Regions from separate parts of the Homo sapiens genome. Here all the other regions are linked to region 2. Evidence: fine-mapped expression QTL. A gene starts in region 2. Each other region holds a variant in brackets. All regions are shown on one strand. Distances are between the middles of the regions.

Region 1 (5,206 bases), 160 kb after region 2:
AGAACAAAATTTACAAAAGGATTCTATAATAAATGATACATAAAGTCACTTTAGCTTTGCACTAAATCTAGTCCATTTTAGAAGCATTTCCAACTTGGAGCATAATGTTCTTTTTAATTTAGAATGATCACTAATGCTTCTGAAAATGAAAGATAACAATCCATGTACATCTTTTATTTAACAAATATTAAAGTACTTCTGATATTGTCCCAAATAAATACTTATATTCTGTGAGCAGGGGATGGAATTCAAGCAAATATATATGTAAATAAGAATAAAGTTATGATTGTGTTAAGCGCAGCAACTGAGAGGTTTTGTGTGCTATGAAGGTGTTTAAGTGAGAAAATAGCACTCTAAGTAAAGGGAACTGGATATTCAAAAAAACCCAGCGACAGGAATAAGCTTGAGTGAATTCTAAAAGTTGAGATAAGTCAAACGAGGTTTGTGGGTGGGTGGTCAAAGCAAATAATGGGACCAGGCCAGATCAGGCAGGGTCTTATAGATGGGATTTTTAAGATCTTTAACTGTTATTTGGACTTTGCTGCATAATAAACCACCCCAAAACTTAGTGATGTGAAGCAACAAACATTATTTCTCATTCTGTGAGTCTGTGGGGCAGTTCATTTGTTGGACTTGCTTAGCTAGAGCTAGGTGGTGTAGTTCACACCCTTGGCCGACAGTTCATGCTGCCATTATTTTTTGGTCACAGGGTTCCCAAAGCAGCAGGAAGGGGGCAAGCCCCAGTCCACAAACATTTGTCAGGTCTTTGCTTGCATCACGTTCGCTGTTGTTCTTTTATCCAAAGCAAGTCATGTGGCCTAAGCCCTGAGTCTGTGGACCAAGACTACCCACGACTGTGTGCACTGGGAGGGTAATTATTATGACCATTTTTGCAAACAGCCAGCCACTTGAATAACCTGTTTATGATTTCAGAATACATTGTACATTGTTTCATACTTTAAAGTACATTATGGCCGGGCATGGTGGCTCACGCCTGTAATCCCAGCATTATGGGAGGCCGGGGGTGGGGTGGATCACCTGAGGTCAGGAGTTCAAGACCAGCCTGGTCAACGTGGCTAAACCCCATCTCTACTAAAAATACAAAAAAATTAGCTGGGCATGGTGGCGGGTGTCTGTAATCCCAGCTACTTGGGAGGCTGAGGCAGGAGAATCACTTGAATCTAAAAGGTGAAGGTTGCAGTGAGCCGAGATCGCGCCACTGCACTCCATCCTGGGTGACAGAGCGAGACTCCATCTCAAAAAAAAAAAAGTACATTATAAGTTTTTAACTGGAGTTGGTTGGGTACACCATGCTTTTTGATGAGATGGACTACCCCTTTGCCAGTCTTAATGGGTTTCTTTCATCAAGAGCTCAAACCTTTTACTTTTTTCTATAAAGGTTCAGCGAACTATTGCCAAACAGATTCAGATGGTCCGGCAAGTTGGTAAAGGCCGATATGGAGAAGTATGGATGGGCAAATGGCGTGGCGAAAAAGTGGCGGTGAAAGTATTCTTTACCACTGAAGAAGCCAGCTGGTTTCGAGAAACAGAAATCTACCAAACTGTGCTAATGCGCCATGAAAACATACTTGGTGGGTACACACTGATTCAGTCAATTTCATTTTTGACAAGGCTAGTGAGGTACAGGTGGAAGCCTCCATATGTGCTTTGAAAATGTGTGAGTTCAACTATATACATTTGGCTAAAGGAAACCTAGTAGAATACACGGTTTGAATAAAACATAGTCCGGAATGCCAACCAAGATCTTTCTTTACTAACCAGCTGAAGAAACAGCAGTGAGTTTCAAATGGAAAATAATACTAGTTTATTGGACTTACTCCCATAGTAATGAAAACCCAGTCTTTTATAGATAACTTAAGCAGTGATTTAGGGTAACATTAACATATGTGCCTTTTCCCTTTCATAAGCTCAACAGCCCAACATGCAGTTTCATTGTACGTTCTGTGTTTAATGTGTGTTTCCCCCCATCTCCACATTTACACAATAGCAAAGTAATTTAGGTGTGAGCTGGTCAGTCAGGTACATAAGCCGATCTGGCTATCCTGAGTTTTCTTTTCCCTTCACCTCTTGTTTTCCTCCCTTTAATTTGGAGAGCCCATAGCATGTTGCCAAGCAGGCAATTGTATTAGTTTCCTAGGGCTGCTGTATCAATTACCACAAACTGGGTGGCTTCAACCTCCAAAACGTATTCACTCAGTTTTCGAGGCTAGAAGTTTAAAACCAAGGTGTTGGCAGAGCTGTTGTGTCTCTGAATACTCTAGAGGAGGAGCCTTCCTTGCCTCCTCTGGCTACTGGTTGGTGGCCAGGAATTTTTGGTGTTCCTTGGCTTAGTATAGACAACACTCTAGTCTCCATTTCTGTCATCAGGTGGCCTTCTCCCTGGGTGCCTGGGTCCACATTTCCACCTTACAACATCACCAGCCATTGAATTCGGGCCCACGCTAATCCTGTATGAGTCATCTTAACTTGATTACATCTGCAAAGACCCTCTTTCCAAATAAGGTCACGTTTATAGATGACATGGATTTTAGACATGAATTTTGTCGGGGAGCACTGTTCAGCTCAGTACATAGCACTCACTGACCTTTTTCTGGAGGGAAGAGGGTAGGAGAGAAAGGAAAAGAGCAGGACTGTGGGCCTGGCAGTCAACGAGCCAGACTGAAAAGGCAGCTGTGATGAGTCACTGATGGGCAAATGGGAGTTGGCTTAATTAGGAGCTAACTCTTAGTTGAACATTCTTAATTTTATAAAAGTGTCCACTTTTTGCTTTGAAATTGAGAGCCTTTTCTACTAGAGAATCATGTAGGTTGATAATATTCTCCAGGTTATTTGTATAATATGTCATCTTTTTCTTTTCTTTCCTTTTCTTTTCTTTTTTTTTTTTTTGAGACGGAGTCTCATTCTGTCGCTC[A/G]GGCTGGAGTGCAGTGGCGCCATCTTGGCTCACTGCAACCTCTGCCGCCAGGTTCAAGTGATTCTCTTGCCTCAGCCTCCAGAGTAGCCGGGACCACAGGCACTTGCCACCATGCCCAACTAATTTTTGTATTTTTAGTAGAGACGGGGTTTCGCCCTGTTGGCCAGGCTGGTCTCGAGCTCCTGACCTCAAGTGATCCTCCTGCCTTGGCCTCCCAAAGTGATACAGGTGTGAGCCACCACACCCAGCATATATGATCTTTTTCTTAATCCTATTCACTTTCATGATTATTAAGATTATTATAAATTTATTGTAGAAGTACAGATATATGTGTAAATGTAGAAATATAATTTTTAGTAACACATTCACGACTTGGTGTCAGGCGAATTAAAGTTTCACTATCTGCACATGATACCTAAGTTTTTCTCAGTATCCAGAATGAGCATTACTTCTCCCTAGCCTATCTCTGATGATAACTAACCTTTTAAACTCATCAACTGGACAGGTTTCATAGCGGCAGACATTAAAGGTACAGGTTCCTGGACTCAGCTCTATTTGATTACTGATTACCATGAAAATGGATCTCTCTATGACTTCCTGAAATGTGCTACACTGGACACCAGAGCCCTGCTTAAATTGGCTTATTCAGCTGCCTGTGGTCTGTGCCACCTGCACACAGAAATTTATGGCACCCAAGGAAAGCCCGCAATTGCTCATCGAGACCTAAAGAGCAAAAACATCCTCATCAAGAAAAATGGGAGTTGCTGCATTGCTGACCTGGGCCTTGCTGTTAAATTCAACAGGTGAGTGGTTCTTTGCCCCACTGTTTTGAAATTATTTTAATTTCCAAAAGATATTTCCCTATTTGTATTCAAGATAATGGAATTCTAAAAATGTGCATATGCTTGTTTTTAGTTACATAAATGTATAGTTGGGGGGGATTTTGTTCTTTTTACAAAAATTGTGTCCTACTTCTCCTATACATAATTCTTGATATATATATATTTTTTTGGTGTTTTTTTTTGTTTGTTTTTTGTTTTTTGTTTTTTGTTTTTTTTAAAGACAGTGTCTCACTCAGTTGCCCAGGCTGGAATATAGTAGTGTGATCTTAGCTCACTGCAACCTCGACCTCATGGGCTCAAGCAATCCTCCCACCTCAGCCTCCTGAGTAGCTGGGACTACAGGCATGCACTGCCACACCTAGCTAATGTTTTTATTTTTTGCGGAGATGGGGTCTCACTGTGTTGCCTAGGCTGGTCTCAAACTCCTAGGCTCAGCTGATCCTCCCAAAGTGCTGGGATTACAGGTGTGTGCCATATAGTCTTAGCCATCCTTCCATTTCAGCTGATGTAAATCTACTTCATTCTTTTTAACAGATGCAGAGTTTTCCATATGTGGAGGTACTGTAGTTTATTCTTAAGACCCAACTGATGAACATTAAAGGTGTCTTCAGTTGATTATGAAAAGGTTTTTTAATGAACATTGTTGTATTTTAACCATATATTATATATTTGATCCTTGTGCACTTGTACAAGCATTTCTTCATGATGGATTCCTAGAGAAGGGCCTGCTGAGGCAGTGAGTTTATACATATTAAACTATGGTATGTTGCATATTATTTCTTTCAGCAGTGTGCCTCAGTTTACACACCCGTAAGCAGTAGAGATAAGGATGTCATTTTTCTGTCACCACTTGATAGTGTCAGTATTTTAAAACAAATGCAAGTGTTAGAAATTACAAATTTTTAGGAAACCTTTGAAACCATTTTAATCTTGTAATTCTAGAATGGAGTGGCTGCTTTACATTTCAGAATTCATTTTAGGCTGTAATATAAAAGTACCAGTCTTTAAAACAACTGTAAGAGACATTTAAATCTGTTACAGTGTTCTGAGTCAGTGTAGTATTTGTTGGCTCAGATATTTATCAGATGCTATAGGAAAATACAACGCATTATATTGATCACTGCTTTAGAGTAATTATTACTAATTGTCAGTATGATCATGTAAACATTGCTAACAACAGAACTCTGTTGATGGGACCCATAAAGAAGAAAATGTAATCCTATGTCACAAAGCCTTAGTGTATCATATGAGAGTGGTAAAAGCAAGCGATTCCTCTTGTATTTTCATATTCACCACTTCTCAGACATAATTATCTACTACTTTATCTTTTTTTTTTCCTTTTCTTTTCTTTTTTTTTTTTTTTTTGAGAGAGATTCTCACTCTGTTGCCCAGGCTGGAGTGCAGTGGCATGGTCTCGGCTCACTGCAGTCTC
Region 2 (5,135 bases):
TTTCCAAGATAGCCATGCCACCCTCTAACACTAAAAGGGTCTTGGTGACAAGGTTTAGAAATGCCTAGAGGATATGTATGCTTATTTCTCTTCTCTCATTTAACAAATATTCACTTGCCAGGCACTAGGCTCTGAGGAGAGAGTTGAGAATAGATTGACAAAGTCAAGCTGGCCTGTAGTCCCAGCTACTTGGGCGGCTGAGGGGGGAGGATCACGTGAGCCCAGGAGTTCCAGGTTACAGTGAACTATGACTATGCCGCTGCACTCCAGCCTGGGTGACAAAGTGAGAACCTGTCTCTAAAAAAAGAGAGACTGACAAAGTCTTTTGCTCATGGAGTTTATATTCTAGTGGAGCAGAGGGGCTCAGACCACAAACAAATAACTAAATGCACGATGTAATTAATGAATGCTGCTTTGGGCATGTAACAACTACCTCTCTTGTGACCTACCTGGACAGAAGAAAAGACCATTTCCAGCCTATTCTAGTAACCCACTTAAAGGAATACCAACACATTACGGAATGTTAACTGTGGATCCCGAGATGTTGCTTTTGAGTTTGGGGGCCAGAACACACGTGTCCAGATGTCTCCCTGGGCAGACAGACCGGAGAAACGGGCTGGCATGCATAAACATGCCAGTAGCCAGGGAGAACAGCATGCCCCACTAGCTGCTGGTAGCCAGGGCGCTGAGGATTGAAGCCTGGGTACTAGCTGGGCCTTATCAAAGGAGAGCGAAAAATTCCTGAAGATTTGAAAAGGAGAGTCTTTTGCAGAGAAGCAAACATATCACGACTTAAAATTTGATGCTTCAATTTTGCTCTCATTTCTACAGTGGCAGATAACACAAGCCAGGGAATACTCATTTGTACATTTCAGAAACTTGATGTACTAAGGTTCCCACCTGAGATTGTTGTCTATTTTATAGACCAATTCATATGTCTAAAAATCCAACTAGACTATAAAGAGCATAATAACACGCTTGCCATGGTTTTCTCTGCCGACACATTGCTCAGCATACGTCAATGAGAGCTTTGACCAATCAATGTGAATCTCCTTAAGCAAAAGGCCCATCTTTTCCTTTAGAACTAAAGCTGGGGCTGGGCGCAGTGGCTCACGCTTGTAATCCCAGCACTTTGGGAGGCCGAGGCGGGAGGATCACGAGGTCAGGAGATCGAGAACACCTATTAACACGGTGACACCCCGTCTGTACTAAAAATACAAAAAGTTAGCCGGGCGTGGTGGCGGGCGCCTGTAGTCCCAGCTGCTCAGGAGGCTGAGGCAGGAGAATGGCGTGAACCCAGGAGGCGGAGCTTGCAGTGAGCCGAGATGGCGCCACTGCACTTCAGCCTGGGCGACAGAGCGAGACTCCGTCTCAAAAAAAAAAGAACAAAAAAACCCCAAAAAACAAAAAAACTAAAACTGGGTATTATGAAGGAAACTTGAGAAAGAAAAGTGACCAATTTTAGTTGATGCAAGTAATCTCACGTATCCTCTTCTTCCTGCATAGCAAGATACTACAACCCATGACTGTCAAACCTGAGACAGCTGAAGAGCCCAGAAAAAAAGATTAGGGAAGAAAACAGAATTGAAAAATAATTCAGAATGACAGAGGCTATCTGCAGCATTAAGGGCAAAGGCGGGTAAAAGAAGAAAAGGGAGACAGAATAAAAGATAAACCAAAAAATTGAAACAAAATACACGGGAATTCAAACATTTATACCAGAATATAAGGGAATACCCTGGAATCTAAACACCTCTTCAGGCAAGAATGTGTGTCAATACAAATGCCTGGCACATTGTTTTCCTTCCCCCTTTCTTTTTACCCAGTTTACCCAGTTTTAAAAGTGATTTTTTAAAATGCACCTTTAAAAGAACATCTTTTGTTAAGTGACTTAAACTTGATACATTTCTTGGATTACTAAGGAGGTTAAAGTCACATTTGGTGAAAAAGGGGCCTATCTCCTCTTTCCTCACATACGGGTCATCGAATACTTTTAAAAGCATTTTCCACCATGAATGAGGGGAAATGGAAGAAAAGAGGTGGTGACAATTATTTGCATTTTCCAAATGGACGGAATGAGCCTCCGGAGGGTACACGAGGTCACCAGCGTGAGCCCGCGGTGGAGCTGGAGGCGTATTTATAGCTGGCTGACCTCAGTCCTGTTGGGCCCTCGCCGCTCCTTATCTTATGCCGCTGGAATTCGCGGGCTCGCAGGTCACAGGAGCCCGGGCGCGCCGGGCCTGGCGCTCCCGAATCGATGAGGGAAGCCGCTCTCCCCGGCAGATCCTCCCGGCCGGGGAGCCTCCATCACCCTGCCTGCGCCTCGGCACGCTGGCAAGGAGCCCGGGAAGAGACGCCGGGAGCGGTGGGTGGGCGAGAAACAAATGCAATGTGACTTATATTTTTCTTTGTCGCAACTACCACGACCTGGCCATCCCCCACCTTGGTGACTTGGTGCCTTCCCAGCGACCTTATTTCACGCCAGCTGACTGGCGTTCACCGCAGTGTGAGTGTCGGCCGGAGGAGGGGTCCACGCGAAAGAGCCCGCGAGAGTGGGGATATCCGGCCCCGAAGGCCGGAGCGGGCGTCCAGGGCGCCGATGGCCGCAGCGCCCGGCAGCCGTGTCCACGCTCCCCTCCGCCGCGTTCCATCGCGTGCTACCTACGGCGTCTGCGGGAAGCTACCCGGGCGGCAGCTGTGGGGCTGGCTTGTGGGGAGGGGCCGGCGGGCCCGCGCGGAGGAGCAGCCCCGACTCCCGCCCGCACCAGCAGCTCGGCGCCCCCTTGCCGGCGGCTGGCCCTCCTCCCCGGCAACTGGGCGCCGGGCTCCGCGAACTCTTCGGGCGCTTCCGCCGTGCGCTCGGCTCTTTTCGTGTCCGGGGCGGGGCGGGGCAGGCGCCCGTGGTCGGGTGCGCGCGGCGCGGGCGGGGGCCTTCCCAGTGCGCGCGCGCCGTGCAAGGCCCGCGGACGCCCGCCCCTCCCCCAGGCCCCCGCACCCGCGCCGCCCCCTCCCCTCCTGGCAAGAGTCGGCGGCGGTGGCGGCGGCCGCTGCAGAGATTGGAATCCGCCTGCCGGGCTTGGCGAAGGAGAAGGGAGGAGGCAGGAGCGAGGAGGGAGGAGGGCCAAGGGCGGGCAGGAAGGCTTAGGCTCGGCGCGTCCGTCCGCGCGCGGCGAAGATCGCACGGCCCGATCGAGGGGCGACCGGGTCGGGGCCGCTGCACGCCAAGGGCGAAGGCCGATTCGGGCCCCACTTCGCCCCGGCGGCTCGCCGCGCCCACCCGCTCCGCGCCGAGGGCTGGAGGATGCGTTCCCTGGGGTCCGGGTGAGTTGGGAGTGCGCGTGCGGACCGGAGGGGCTGGCCGCAGCGGGGAGGCCAGAGGGGCTCGGGCGAGGCTGCAGAGGCAGCTGGGCGCGCGGTGGCCGGAGCCAGGGGCTGCCCGGCCCGGCCCCGGCAGCTCCGCAGGCCTCGGCGCGCGCTGGGCCGGGACCGCCCAGCCAGAGACCCACGGCACCCCGCGCCGCGTCCCCCGCCGGCCCCTCTTTTGTCTCCCACTCGCGGGTTGCAGGCCGAGTTTGGGGATGCGGAGTGGGCGAAAGTCGCTCCGGGGACGCTTCTGGAATCCTTAAATGGGAAAGGCGCTCACCTCCCCGCCCCGGAGCGGCGAGGCTGATATTTGTGATTTGGCTCCGGACGCTGTGGGGAGGAACAGGGGAGAACAAAATGAGTTTCGGGCGGGGGTCGAGTGAGAGGAGCAGCCGGCCCGCCCCCGAGTCCCCGCGGGAAGGGGCCCTGGCCCCCGAGCTCCCGGAGCTGCTTCACCTGTTGTCCTGCGCGGCCTCCGCTCCGTGGCCTGGTGATTCCGTACTTCAGTTTTGGAAAACTTTCTGCTGGATTGCCTGGACCCTTTTTTCTCTTTCCAGACTCCTAGTGGAAAGATTTGGCAAGGAAAAAAAAATGAGCTTGCGTCAGGGAAGAAAAATAATATGCTGTGTGTTAGGGTCTGGCGTTTGAGCGTGGTACTCTTTCATGCTCTCAGATGTTTTAATTTGGTCAAACTCCTGCAGGTTTTCTCTTTTAAGCGGTTAACAAACTGTTCAGAGTACATAGTATGAACTTGGCACCTGTGTTACGTCATTTAATCCTTACAACGATTCTGGTTTATTGTATTCCTCATTGTTTTAGGGGAAGAAACCGAGTCGCAAAGAGGTTAACTAACTTGTCTAAGGGAGCTGGGATTTGAACCCAGGAACATCGTATTCTGGCAAACGAATTAGGAAGAAAAAAAACCAAAACTGTTTGCAAACACTTTTACGTTTAGGAACATTTTTCAGTTACTCTTACTTGAAATTATCGCTATTTTGTTGCTGGAGTTGAAAACAACTACTTTATTGTATTTACTTGTGAGAGGAGTTAAACTTTGAATTAGAGTGTAACTTAATGCGTCTCATTGTTTTCAGTTGTTGAAATAAAGAATGTGAACCAGAATTATTTAGATTTTTAAATTTGAAGCTAAAATATGGGCAATTCTCTGATCTAGGAATGGGGTGAGTGTATGAAAGGCCGATTGAAATGTAGAATGCGTTTTTAGTAGAACCAGACTCAGTTCTTGTTTAATTTTTCCTCCATTTTCCGTGGAGCCCACTTTAAACTTTTTCTACTTTCTTCACTTCTCCCCACCCTTTACAGAAGAGGTTGAGGCACTTAGCAGGAGCTCCTTCATTAAATTCCTTCTGTTACTGGCTTCTTAACCTTCCGTCAAAGAGGGAGAATTTTTTTTTTTTTTTTTGTCTTTCTTATTAGTTAACACCTTGGGGTTTTTTTCCTTTCCTTCTAATTTTCCTGCTTAGTGGAGCGTGAGTTATTTTCTCTGTCGTATTTGGGTTCTTTAAAGTACAAATGTTCTTAAGATTTTTTCAGTTTACAAAAACCTTTTCTTAAGTCTGCTACTCCTTCAAGCTGTCTTGTTGCTGCTTTTCCTTTTCAAATCTTATTAACATTTTAAAAAGCTTGTTCGTAATAAAAGTAACACATGGTTGTTAATTGCGAACTAGCGCAACATTGAAATTAAAATTTAGTCATTCACAATCCATCTCTAGAGATTGCCAAGTGTAGTCTGCTTTTCCTGCCTTTGCCTG
Region 3 (5,206 bases), 170 kb after region 2:
CTCCAAAGTTGGAGCTTCTATTGCCATGAACCATGCTTACAAAGAAAGCACTTCTTATTGAAGTGAATTCCTGCATTTGATAGCAATGTAAGTGCCTATAACCATGTTCTATATTCTTTATTCTCAGTAACTTTTAAAAGGGAAGTTATTTATATTTTGTGTATAATGTGCTTTATTTGCAAATCACCCACTCCTTTACAACCATACTTTATATATGTACATACATTCATACTGTAGAAACCAGCTCATGTGTACCTCATATCCCATCCTTAAGAGAAGAAATGTTATAAAGTAGAACTAAATATAAATTTTCAGAATTAATGCATTCAAAGTAATATATCAAATCCAGGACTTTGTTAACTTCAGGTAAAAACTTCATTAGGGTAATATCATCTCAATTTTTTCAAATGAAAGGATTCTCTAATTAGAAATTTATATGTCAGAGCTGTTATAAATTTATCAACTGTCAAATATGTTCTGGACAGCTAAATCATTTGAGATTTTTGGTTTTTTGATTTCTATTCCCTAACTTGTGAAGACAATGAAAAATCAGGCAGAAATATTTAGTATCTAGTCAGTATCTGTAGCTACACTGTATAACTGTTCTTCAATAAAATGGTTCATATTTTATAGATGCCTTGTTATCTCAAGAAATCTGATTTACATAAACTTATACTTCTTTAATGCTTTTTAAATATTTATTCTGAGCAAACAATTCATGAGTACATCAAGTGAGATAGTTTTATTTGATTATAACATAAAATAAATGTGATTATATCACATCATCATCAAAAAGGTTTAAATTAAATGGGAGGAAATCAGCATATGTCCACCCATTACCAAAATTTGACTATCATTTAAGGTTAAAACTTACAAATTTGTCTGCACATCAAATTTCACAAATTTGAAAATTGCCTTAACCATTTTGATTAATAAGTTTCATCTGCCATAATTAAAGTCTGAAGTGTTCATCAAGATAAGTAAATTTGCATATGGATAATACCCAATAACTTGTTTTTTCAGAATTTTTCACCATATGTATACTGAGAAATACAAATATTTTAATCTGCGTTGCCGTATGATATGATTGCACTTAGAACACCCAATTTACTTAAATCTTGGTTTACTTTTGACTTGATACCATAATCTTTAAAATCATTTGTCATCTTTTTTTTTTTTTTTTTGAGACGGAGTCTCGCTCTGTCGCCCAGGCTGGACTGCGGACTGCAGTGGCGCAATCTCGGCTCACTGCAAGCTCCGCTTCCCGGGTTCACGCCATTCTCCTGCCTCAGCCTCCCGAGTAGCTGGGACTACAGGCGCCCGCCACCGCGCCCGGCTAATTTTTTGTATTTTTAGTAGAGACGGGGTTTCACCTTGTTAGCCAGGATGGTCTCAATCTCCTGACCTCATGATCCACCTGCCTCGGCCTCCCAAAGTTCATTTGTCATCTTAATAAAAATATAAAGACAGGCAAAGTTTATTGGAAATGTTCAAATGGTGTGTGGAAGCAAAAAATTACAGCCAGTATATGAGACCACTATTATGGTTTTTTAAAATTAACTTGGTCTAGTAAAAGTGATATCAAGAGTTAATCTTAGAAACTTGCTCAGTAAAAACATTTTCTAGTATAACATGTTCTTTAAAAAGCAAATGCTGCCGTCTTTGGAATCTTAATCTAAAAATGTGGCCGGGCGCGGTGGCTCACGCCTGTAATCCCAACACTTTGGGAGGCTGAGGCGGGTGGATCACAAGGTCAGGAGTTCAAGACCAGCCTGGCCAACATGGTGAAACCCCATCTCTACTAAAAATAAAAAACTCAGCCAGGCGTGGTGGCGGGTGCCTGTAATCCCAGCTACTCGGGAGGCTGAAGCAGGAGAATTGCTTAAAATCAGAAGGTGGAGGTTGCAGTGAGCTGAGATCGTGTCACTGCACTCCAGCCTGGGCAAAAGAGCGAAACTCCATCTCAAATAAACAAACAAATAAATAACAAAAAACAAAAATGTTGCATTAAACTTAGTTCTTGTCTCTCCTTTCCACTCTTATTCTTAAATCTGAAGCTCATCGACTAAGTGAAATATTTAAAGAATATGATAGGCCAGCAAGAAGAAGTATTATGTAGTACCATAGTTAGTAAATTCGTAAAACCTTGGAAGCCATTATTTGGTCCCACTTGCAATTTAGTGTTTTTGAAGTGTGTAGCTTCATTCAGATAGCTCTTTAAATAATTAAAATATAAAAGCAAACAACCCAAACTACCTGACTATAAACAGGAAAAGTTAACCCTCAAAGAGAGTTCTTGTGAATTCTCTTTATGCTGGCAAATAGCTCTAGGATTAAAGGCACATTAGGGTTTCCTTCAGTTTGTTTATTCTAAGCTTTTACTGTGCTTTTTACTGAACAAGTTTCTGATGTATAAAACTTGCATCTGATTTCTTTGGAAATATTTTCACAAAAGTTATTTTAATCAGTATTTTTACATTGCCTTTCCAGTGTCCAGAAGTGTTTCTAAACTTAGAAAGTGACCTATAGTTTTTTAAAATTATGTTTTCCTAGAACGTGCCAAATTTTGATTTACTCTAACAATCAGTACTTTTCTTCAGATGCTTTGTTCTGTTTAGAACAAAAATGCACTATAGTTTTTAAAGAATCATGCATCTTTGGGTTGGCCCAGGATCAAATTTGATATTGAATAATTTATTCCAGGGCAGCTTTCATAAACATACTTCATAGATGTTGTTTTGAAATGTTTCTAAATATCTAAAATCATTTCAACAGCAGAAATGATTTTTATTTTAACAAAAGATTATGATAGCCCTTGTAGTGTTTAAAAGTGGTCATATTTATTACTGACTTTGAGTCAGGTGTTAAAATAGCAGTGCCACAGCTCGTCTCTTGCCTTAGTGTGCTGCTGTGAGAGTCACAGTGGAAACTGCAGGGAGGAGGTGTGTTCCTAAGAACCAAAATCCAGCACAGCATCCTGTGAAGCCACGTGTAATGATGGTCCCATAAGGAAAGTATGTGAATATGGCTCTTGTAAAGGATTAACTATTGTAATTTTAGCTTATGCTCTGTATTCTGTTTTCTATGGAATTATTTAAGCCCTTTTAGTGACCTTTGTCCTGGCCCATTTAAAAACTAAAATGTAGTATATATTGTATAAAATGGAAATATCATTATTGCTTCATTAGGGGAAACTGTACATAGGCATTGAAAGAAGGGTAAAAGCAAGCAGTTTTATCAGGCA[G/A]TTGTAAAACACCAAAAATATAGATTCGTCTTTGACGTGTAACACACTAAATGTATTTTGTACAGCATCTGGTTTAAAAGGTGCCTTAAGAGTTTACCATTACTTGCTTTGTTCTATATACAGATTATGTCCAATGTATCATTTTGAAGTAAATAACCTTATTTTAGTATACTTTAGTGATGTGTTTTGTGATGCTACACTCAGACGGTATTGTGCATCAGAAGTCATCTGTTGAGATTTTTGTAATGATTAAGTTAGTGTATATACATATGTTCCTGAGATGTACACTTCAACTACCAGAAACCCAGTATGGAGCACAGGTAGGTACACGCTTGCCCTGTGGAGATAGAGAACTTCTAAACCTATCACGGTGCAGGGGTTTTTCCTTTAAAAAACAAGACAAAACATTGTTTTCTTTTTCCTTTTTTTTTTTTTTTTTTTGAGACGGAGTTTTGCTCTTGTTGCCCAGGCTGGAGTGCAATGGCACGATCTCAGCTCACTGCAACCTTTGCCTCCTGGGTTCAAGCAATTCTCCTGCCTCAGCCTCCCGAATAGCTGGAACTACAGGTGTTTGCCACCATGCCTGGCTAATTTTTTGTATTTTTAATAGAGACAGGGTTTCACCATGTTGGCCAGGCTGGTCTCGAACTCCTGACCTCAGGTGGCCCACTTGCCTTGGCCTCCCAAAGTGCTGAGCTTACAGGCATGAGCCACCATGCCTGGCCAAAACATTGTTTTCTGATTATGGAAATGTACTCATGGCAGAAAATTTGGGAAACAACAGCAAATAATAAAGCAAATAAAAATCACTCAAAATTCTATTGCCAGACATTATCACTATATACATTTGAGTGTTTCTTTTCAATCTTTTTTTTTGAGAGAGTCTTGCTCTGTCACTCAGGGTGGAGTGCAGTAGCGCGATCTCGGCTCAGTGCAACCTCTGCCCCCTGGGTTCAAGTGATTCTCCTGCCTCAGCCTCCCAAGTAGCCGGGATTACAGGTGTGCACCACCACGCCCGGCTAATTTTTGTATTTTAGTAGAGATGCGGTTTCACCATGTTGGCCCAGGCTGGTCTCGAACTCCTGACCTCAAGTGATCTGCCTACCTCAGCCTCCCAAAGTGCTGGGATTACAGGAGTGAGCCACTGCACCCGGCCTTATTCTTTTTTATGTTGCATTTTTTGTAATATTAGGATCCTAGTATGCCATTAAATAGCCATTGAGAACTTTTTTTTTAATGACTGCACAATATTTGACTAAGAAGATGGAGTAATTTCTGTGCTCAATCCCCTATTGAATATTTGGATTATTTTCATTGTTTTGAAAAATAGATATTAAGCATCCTTATACATAAATCTTTATTTTCTTATATTACATTTCTGAAAATGAGACTAGTGGATATGAACTTTTAAAAGATCCTTTAAGATGGAAAAACTAAGGTTCTTGGAAAACATTGCCATATTGCTACTCACAAAGCTTTTCATTTTCATTCCTGCTAGCAGTTCATGAGCTTAGAGCGATGGGATGCATTTACCTGGCCTTAAGATGCTCCTGCTGCAATGGGAAGTGAAGCCTTGGATAGCTTTCCTCCTCCTGTGCAATACTTTCTTGTCATTTTCCCACCTGCACTGAGTCCCACCGCCAGTCAGGGCTGTTTTCAGGTGTATGTGAATTCATCCCAGCAGTGTGCCTTCTGCTGCCTTTTCCTAGGGAACTGAACATGTTAAATCACAGACGCGATGTGGCACTGATTATTGTTCCTCAAAAGAAATGCGTGTCTGAAGATAGCCTCTTACAGATTCCTCACGGGAGTCTCTGTTCAGTGTCATTGTAAGTTTCTCAGAATAATCGCAGGCGCTCTGATGCAGCCTGGTAAAGAAGACTCAGTGATTTCTGGGAACTGCAAATGCTTGCCAGCTTTCCTTCTGTCTGTGGAAACACTGAATAAATGTATTCATTTCTC
Region 4 (5,206 bases), 39 kb after region 2:
TTGCATACTGCTAAAAATTATAATGGTAATTGAATTCAAAATAATTTTTTAAACACTTAGAAGCTTCTTTATGGTCAGGAAATTTAAAATGTTTTTCATTTAAACATCAGACAGGCTGGGTGCAGTGGCTCAAACCTGTAATCCCATCACTTTGGGAGGCCAAGGCAGGAGGATTGCTTGAGTCCAGGAGTTTGAAACCAACCAGGGCAACATAGGGAGAATCTGTCTCTATAAAACAAACAAACAAACAGAACTTCAGACATGTATGACTGAGTGACTAATAAGACTTCCAAGCATTAGCAATTACTATATGCAGGGCAAATGTACTGGAAATATGAATTCAAGGAGGAAAATATGCTGTGAAAATTTCACTTTAAAATGGATCATGATGGGTATCAGATCACAATTGTATTTGGATTCTGTTGAAGAGATTTAAGGTTGATATTACAGTGACCTTGCTAAATTATATTGCTGTTCTGTGCTCTGTTTCCCTATATATAAATGGGATAATAATAGCACCTATATCAAGGAGTAATTTATTATTATGTCTAGTGCAGCTTCTTGGCAAATACTCTGTTCAGTGATTCACATTCTGTTTAATAGCCCACTGCTTTGTTTCTTTCTGGTAAGTCTTCTGCCTTAATGCAGTCTTCTCTAGCTACTATGTGTCCTTTTTTCATCCTCCTGATCTATACCCCCCCCCACCCCCCGCCACCCCACACACACATGGTGGTGTGGACAAGGCAAAAAAGAAAGTTAGCTGGATTTATGTTTCGGAATTTCAGGGCTTTGTATTTACAGTTGACTTGTTAGGAGAAGAGGAAGAAGAATTAAAAAGTATAGCATTGGGCCAGAATATCATTAAGCAGTAAGATCACATTGAGTTGTATAGGGAAGGGTACCTGTATTTTTATTTCATCTGTACTGGAGACAGGATTTCTGATGACACGCTTGCTCACTGACAGTTTTTTTTTTTTTTTGAGATGGAGTTTCGCTGTTGTTGCCCAGGCTGGAGTGCAATGGCGTGATCTCGGCTCTCTGCAACCTCTGCCTCCCGGATTCAAGCGATTCTCCTGTCTCAGCCTCCCGAGTAGCTGGGATTACAGGTGCATGCCACCACGCCTAGCTAATTTTTGTATTTTTAGTAGAGACAGGGTTTCATCATATTGATCAGGCTGGTCTCAGGTGATCTGCCTGCCTCGGCCTCCCAAAGTGCTGGGATTACAGGTGAGCCACTGCGCCAGGCCTGACAGATAGTTTTTTTAGATGGTGTAAGACAGTGTCAATTATGTAGTGTAGTTGGTATATTTTCTGTTGTTACTGTAACAAATTACCATACTTTTAGTGGTTTATAGAGCACAAATTTATTATCTTATGGTTCTGCAGGTCAGAAGTCCAACACAGGTCTCACTAGGCTAAGATGCAGGTGTCTACAGGGCCGTGTTCCTTTCGGGAAGTTCTAAGGAAGTATGGATTCTGTGCCTCTTACAGCCTCTAGAGGCTGGCTGCATTCCTGGATCAGGCTCCCCTTCCTGTTCACCTTCACAGTCAGCAAGGTGACATGGCTCTGACCTCCTGTCATCTCTTTCCCACCGTACTTGGGAGAAGTTCTCTGCTTTTAAGGACCATGTGAGTAGATTGGTCCCAACAAGCTCATCCAGGATAATCGCCCCATCTCAGGTTTTGGACCCTTAGTCACACATCTGCAAAGTCCCTTTTGCCATTTAAATAACATATTCATAGGTTACAGGGATTAGGATGTGAATGTCTGCAGGGGCCATTATCCTGCTACCACAGTTGGTTTTTAGTCAGCTACATAATTTTGAACTGTTAATTTTATCTATTTTTTTTTTATGACAGTTGTGGTTAGAGGTGAGGCTTGGATTGGTCCTGGCCTGAATCTTGTTCTGCTGTGTAGCAGCACTGTGACGTTAGGCAAGTTTCTTCTCTGTACTTGTTTCTTCTTTGGTGAAATCAAGATAGTAATGCTTGTCTGTATGTACTGAAATAAAGTAATAGTTTAGGGTTCTAGATGGGAGGCAAGAGATTTCTACCAATCTTTTTGTGTCTGTCTCAAATAAGCAAATATGTGATCACCTAACTCACAAGGTTGTTGTGAAGATCAAATTAAGTCATCAAGTTAGAGTGCCTTTTGAAATGTATAAAAAGTATATAACATTTTGTTGGTATTAATTTTAGAATGGCTTTTAAGATTTTTGTCAAAGGTGAGAACGTTCAGTACATTCTTTGATACCTGCCTAGCAACTATTTTTAGGTTTCTATTCCTTTCCAGATTTTCAGATTCACATATTTCCTTTATTAAATTATGGTAAATGAAAAGATAATATGAGAATTAAAAGTAATGACTTCTGTGATTCGTATAGTCACTAGGATTTAAAATTCAAATTTATCTATATCTATATCTATAGATATAGATATATAGATATAGATATAGTTTTTTTTTTTTAGATAGAGAGTTTCGCTCTTGTTTCCCAGGATGGAGTGCAATGGTGCCATCTTGACTCACCGCACACTCCACCTCCTTGGTTCAAGCAGTTCTCCTGCCTCAGCCTCCCGAGTAGCTGGGATTACAGGCATGCACCACCACAACTAGCTAATTTTGTATTTTTAGTAGAGATGGGGTTTCTCCATGTTGGTCAGGCTGGTCTTGAACTCCCGACCTCAGGTGATCTGCCTGCTTCTGCCTCCCAAAGTGCTGGGATTATAGGGGTGAGCCACCACTCCTGGCCTATCTAGATAATTTTTAATCTTTATTTTTTTTTTTCTGTAGACTTATTTGGAGCTATACTATATGTGTTGTAGAAGCAAAATAAATACTAAGTCTACCTTGCATTAGTAAGACTGATTTTTCTTAAATCCTGAGCTACATTTAAAATCTTGGTTAGTAGACATTTTACTCAGATAGTGATTCATTTATAATTGGCTTGTCTAAGTACTCAGTGTTTGACAAAAATATCACTATGTTAAGCAAAAACCATATTTAAAAAGTGATTTGTTTTTTTTTTTTC[C/T]TAACGCTGTAACAGTGAATAGATCTTTTTCCCCTAAGCAGCACAAAGATGCCATTTTGGGAGGTTAAATTACTTTCTAAAAGTTGCTGTGAAGGAGAGAAGGAAAAGAGATCAGGTTACACATTCTTTGTTCCTGAGCCTACCACTGCACACGTTCAGAGAAGCAATAGTGAGGCTAGAGTATGCATTTGCCACTATGTCTTCAACCCTTCCCCATAGTAGGGAGGGAGGGAATTAGGCAGTTTTCCTAACAGGGCCCCGAAGAGTACCATTTTAACTTAAATACTCTTAAAAGTTGCTACTTATTTTTTTTAAGGCTTTCTTTACTTTTTTATAATTTAGCATTTCAAGTAATCCAAATAGTTATTTCTTTGTATATTCAGAGGTATTTAAAAATATTTTCTTTGAGAGCTTAAAGGTTATAGTTTAATAATGCAGTTAAACATCAATTTATCTCAAATTGATATTGAGTTAAATTTAAAGAGTATTTTAAATTATATTTTGAGGGGAAAAAAATAACTTTCTTGGCACAAAATGGCCATGAATTAGATTGTGTGTTTCAGAAAGGTAGTGGTAAAAAGTCCCCAAAGCAGTTACAATATTTCTTTTGTTCTGTTTCCTTGCTACTCTTAGATAAATGAAGAGTTTGAAAAGAATTTTCACATAAAAACGTCATAAAATCCCAGTGCCATATTCTGAATATTAATTTGACTGTTTTATGTCGTATTTTTTTCCCAGTTGGTTTTAGTTAGAATATATGCTTTTTTTTAAGCCTTTAAGGAATTAAACAATTTTGGTTATTAAAGTTTAAATGTATTTCATAAATATGTATTTATAAATATGTGACTGGTCCCTTTTCTGAGGGGTTAGGAAGTTTAAGCATTATTTGTAAGCTATTTGTAAATCCCTGTCAAACATTATTTGTCCATTAAGAAATACTATTTTTTTCTTCACTTTTAGGTCATTTTAAGTATTAATAATGTTCATCAATTTACTTACTACCCTTCTGAAGAAAGTCACTATAATTAGTAATCAGAATTATATCACATAAATTTAGGCACATTTATTTATTTATTTATTTATTTATTTATTTATTTATTTTTAGTATTTTGAGAGTAGGTGCTGTATTTTCTTTTCTTTCCTTGTTTCTTCTTTTTTGTTTTTTGAGACAGAATCTCTCTCTGTTGCCCAGGCTGGAGTACAGTGGCATGATCTCAGTTCACTGCAACTTCCCCCTCCTAGGCTCTAGCAGTGCTTCCACCTCAGCCTCCCAAGTAGCTGGGACCAGCTCACGCTACCACTCCAGCTAATTTTTGTATTTTTTGTAGAGACAGGGTTTTGCCATGTCACCGAGACTGAGTTACTGTATTTTCTTAGCAGAATATTGTCCCAGTGAGCTTTTTCCAAAAGAGAAAAGGTACAGCCAATAAAAGTTTGTGGTTGGGTATTGGGAGTTGGTGTTGTTCTGTTTTGTCCTGTTCATAAAAGTTTTATTCTCTTTAGCTCTCATGCTTTAGTTCTAATTTATTCACAGATTTTTGCCCAGTAACTTGATTTTATACTTGGCTTTCTATATTGTGGCTCCAATTTTTCTTCCCAGTTTATACTCTTATTTTTCCTTTCTTTTTCTTTTCTTTTCTTTTTTTTTTTTTTTTGAGACAGTCTTGCTCTGTCGCCCAGGCTGGAGTGCAGTGGCGCGATCTCTGCTCACTGCAGCCTCCGCCTCCCAAGTTCAAGCAATTCTCCTGCCTCAGCCTCCAGAGCAGCTGGGATTACAGGCGCCTGCCACCAAGCCCGGCTAATTTTTTTTTTTTTTTTTGAGACGGAGTCTTGCTCTGTTGTCTGGGCTGGAGTGTAGTGGCCCAATCTCGGTTCACTGCAACCTCCACCTCCTGGGTTCAAGTGATTCTCCTGCCTCAGCCTCCTGAGTAGCTGGGATTACAGGCGCCCACCACTATGTCCAGCTAATTTTTTGTATTTTTAGTAGAGATGGGGTTTCGCAGTGTTGGTTGGGCTGGTCTTGGAACTCCTGGCCTCGTGATTCGCCCACTTCGGCCTCCCTGAGTGTTGGGATTACAGGCATGAACTACTGCGCCCAGCCAATTTTTGTATTTTTAGTAGAGACGAGGTTTCACCACGTTGGCCAGCCTGGTCTTGAACTCCTGACCTCAAGTGAT

Alleles and levels. Positions count from the first base shown, and alleles are read on the strand shown. Sizes are in standard deviations (SD) of each study's normalised expression. Not every link is listed here.
In carriers of allele C in region 4, the expression in visceral fat of the gene that starts at base 3,021 in region 2 tends to be higher than with T alone (small effect, 0.35 SD a copy in GTEx).

What was found.
Region 1: its variant is fine-mapped to the expression of BMPR1A in lung (TOPMed, PIP 0.92).
Region 3: its variant is fine-mapped to the expression of BMPR1A in whole blood (TOPMed, PIP above 0.99). The same link has a PIP of 0.9 or more in nasal epithelium.
Region 4: its variant is fine-mapped to the expression of BMPR1A in visceral fat (GTEx, PIP 0.96).

The regions. Positions count from the first base shown.
Region 1 is chr10:86,915,735-86,920,940 of GRCh38, forward strand. It overlaps BMPR1A (bone morphogenetic protein receptor type 1A), which reads left to right. Exons shown (of 13, transcript NM_004329.3): 9 at 1,400-1,592; 10 at 3,438-3,735. Among named protein-coding and RNA genes, the nearest start is that of MMRN2, 39 kb to the right of the region's middle. The variant A/G (reference allele first, on the strand shown) is at 2,933.
Region 2 is chr10:86,753,599-86,758,733 of GRCh38, forward strand. BMPR1A (bone morphogenetic protein receptor type 1A) reads left to right here and starts at 3,021. Exons shown (of 13, transcript NM_004329.3): 1 at 3,021-3,321. RefSeq lists a silencer at 2,534-3,503.
Region 3 is chr10:86,924,555-86,929,760 of GRCh38, forward strand. BMPR1A (bone morphogenetic protein receptor type 1A) reads left to right here. Exons shown (of 13, transcript NM_004329.3): 13 at 1-3,415. Among named protein-coding and RNA genes, the nearest start is that of MMRN2, 30 kb to the right of the region's middle. The variant G/A (reference allele first, on the strand shown) is at 3,245.
Region 4 is chr10:86,792,401-86,797,606 of GRCh38, forward strand. All of the region lies in intron 1 of BMPR1A (bone morphogenetic protein receptor type 1A), which reads left to right. Among named protein-coding and RNA genes, the nearest start is that of BMPR1A, 38 kb to the left of the region's middle. RefSeq lists an enhancer at 617-1,343. The variant C/T (reference allele first, on the strand shown) is at 3,030.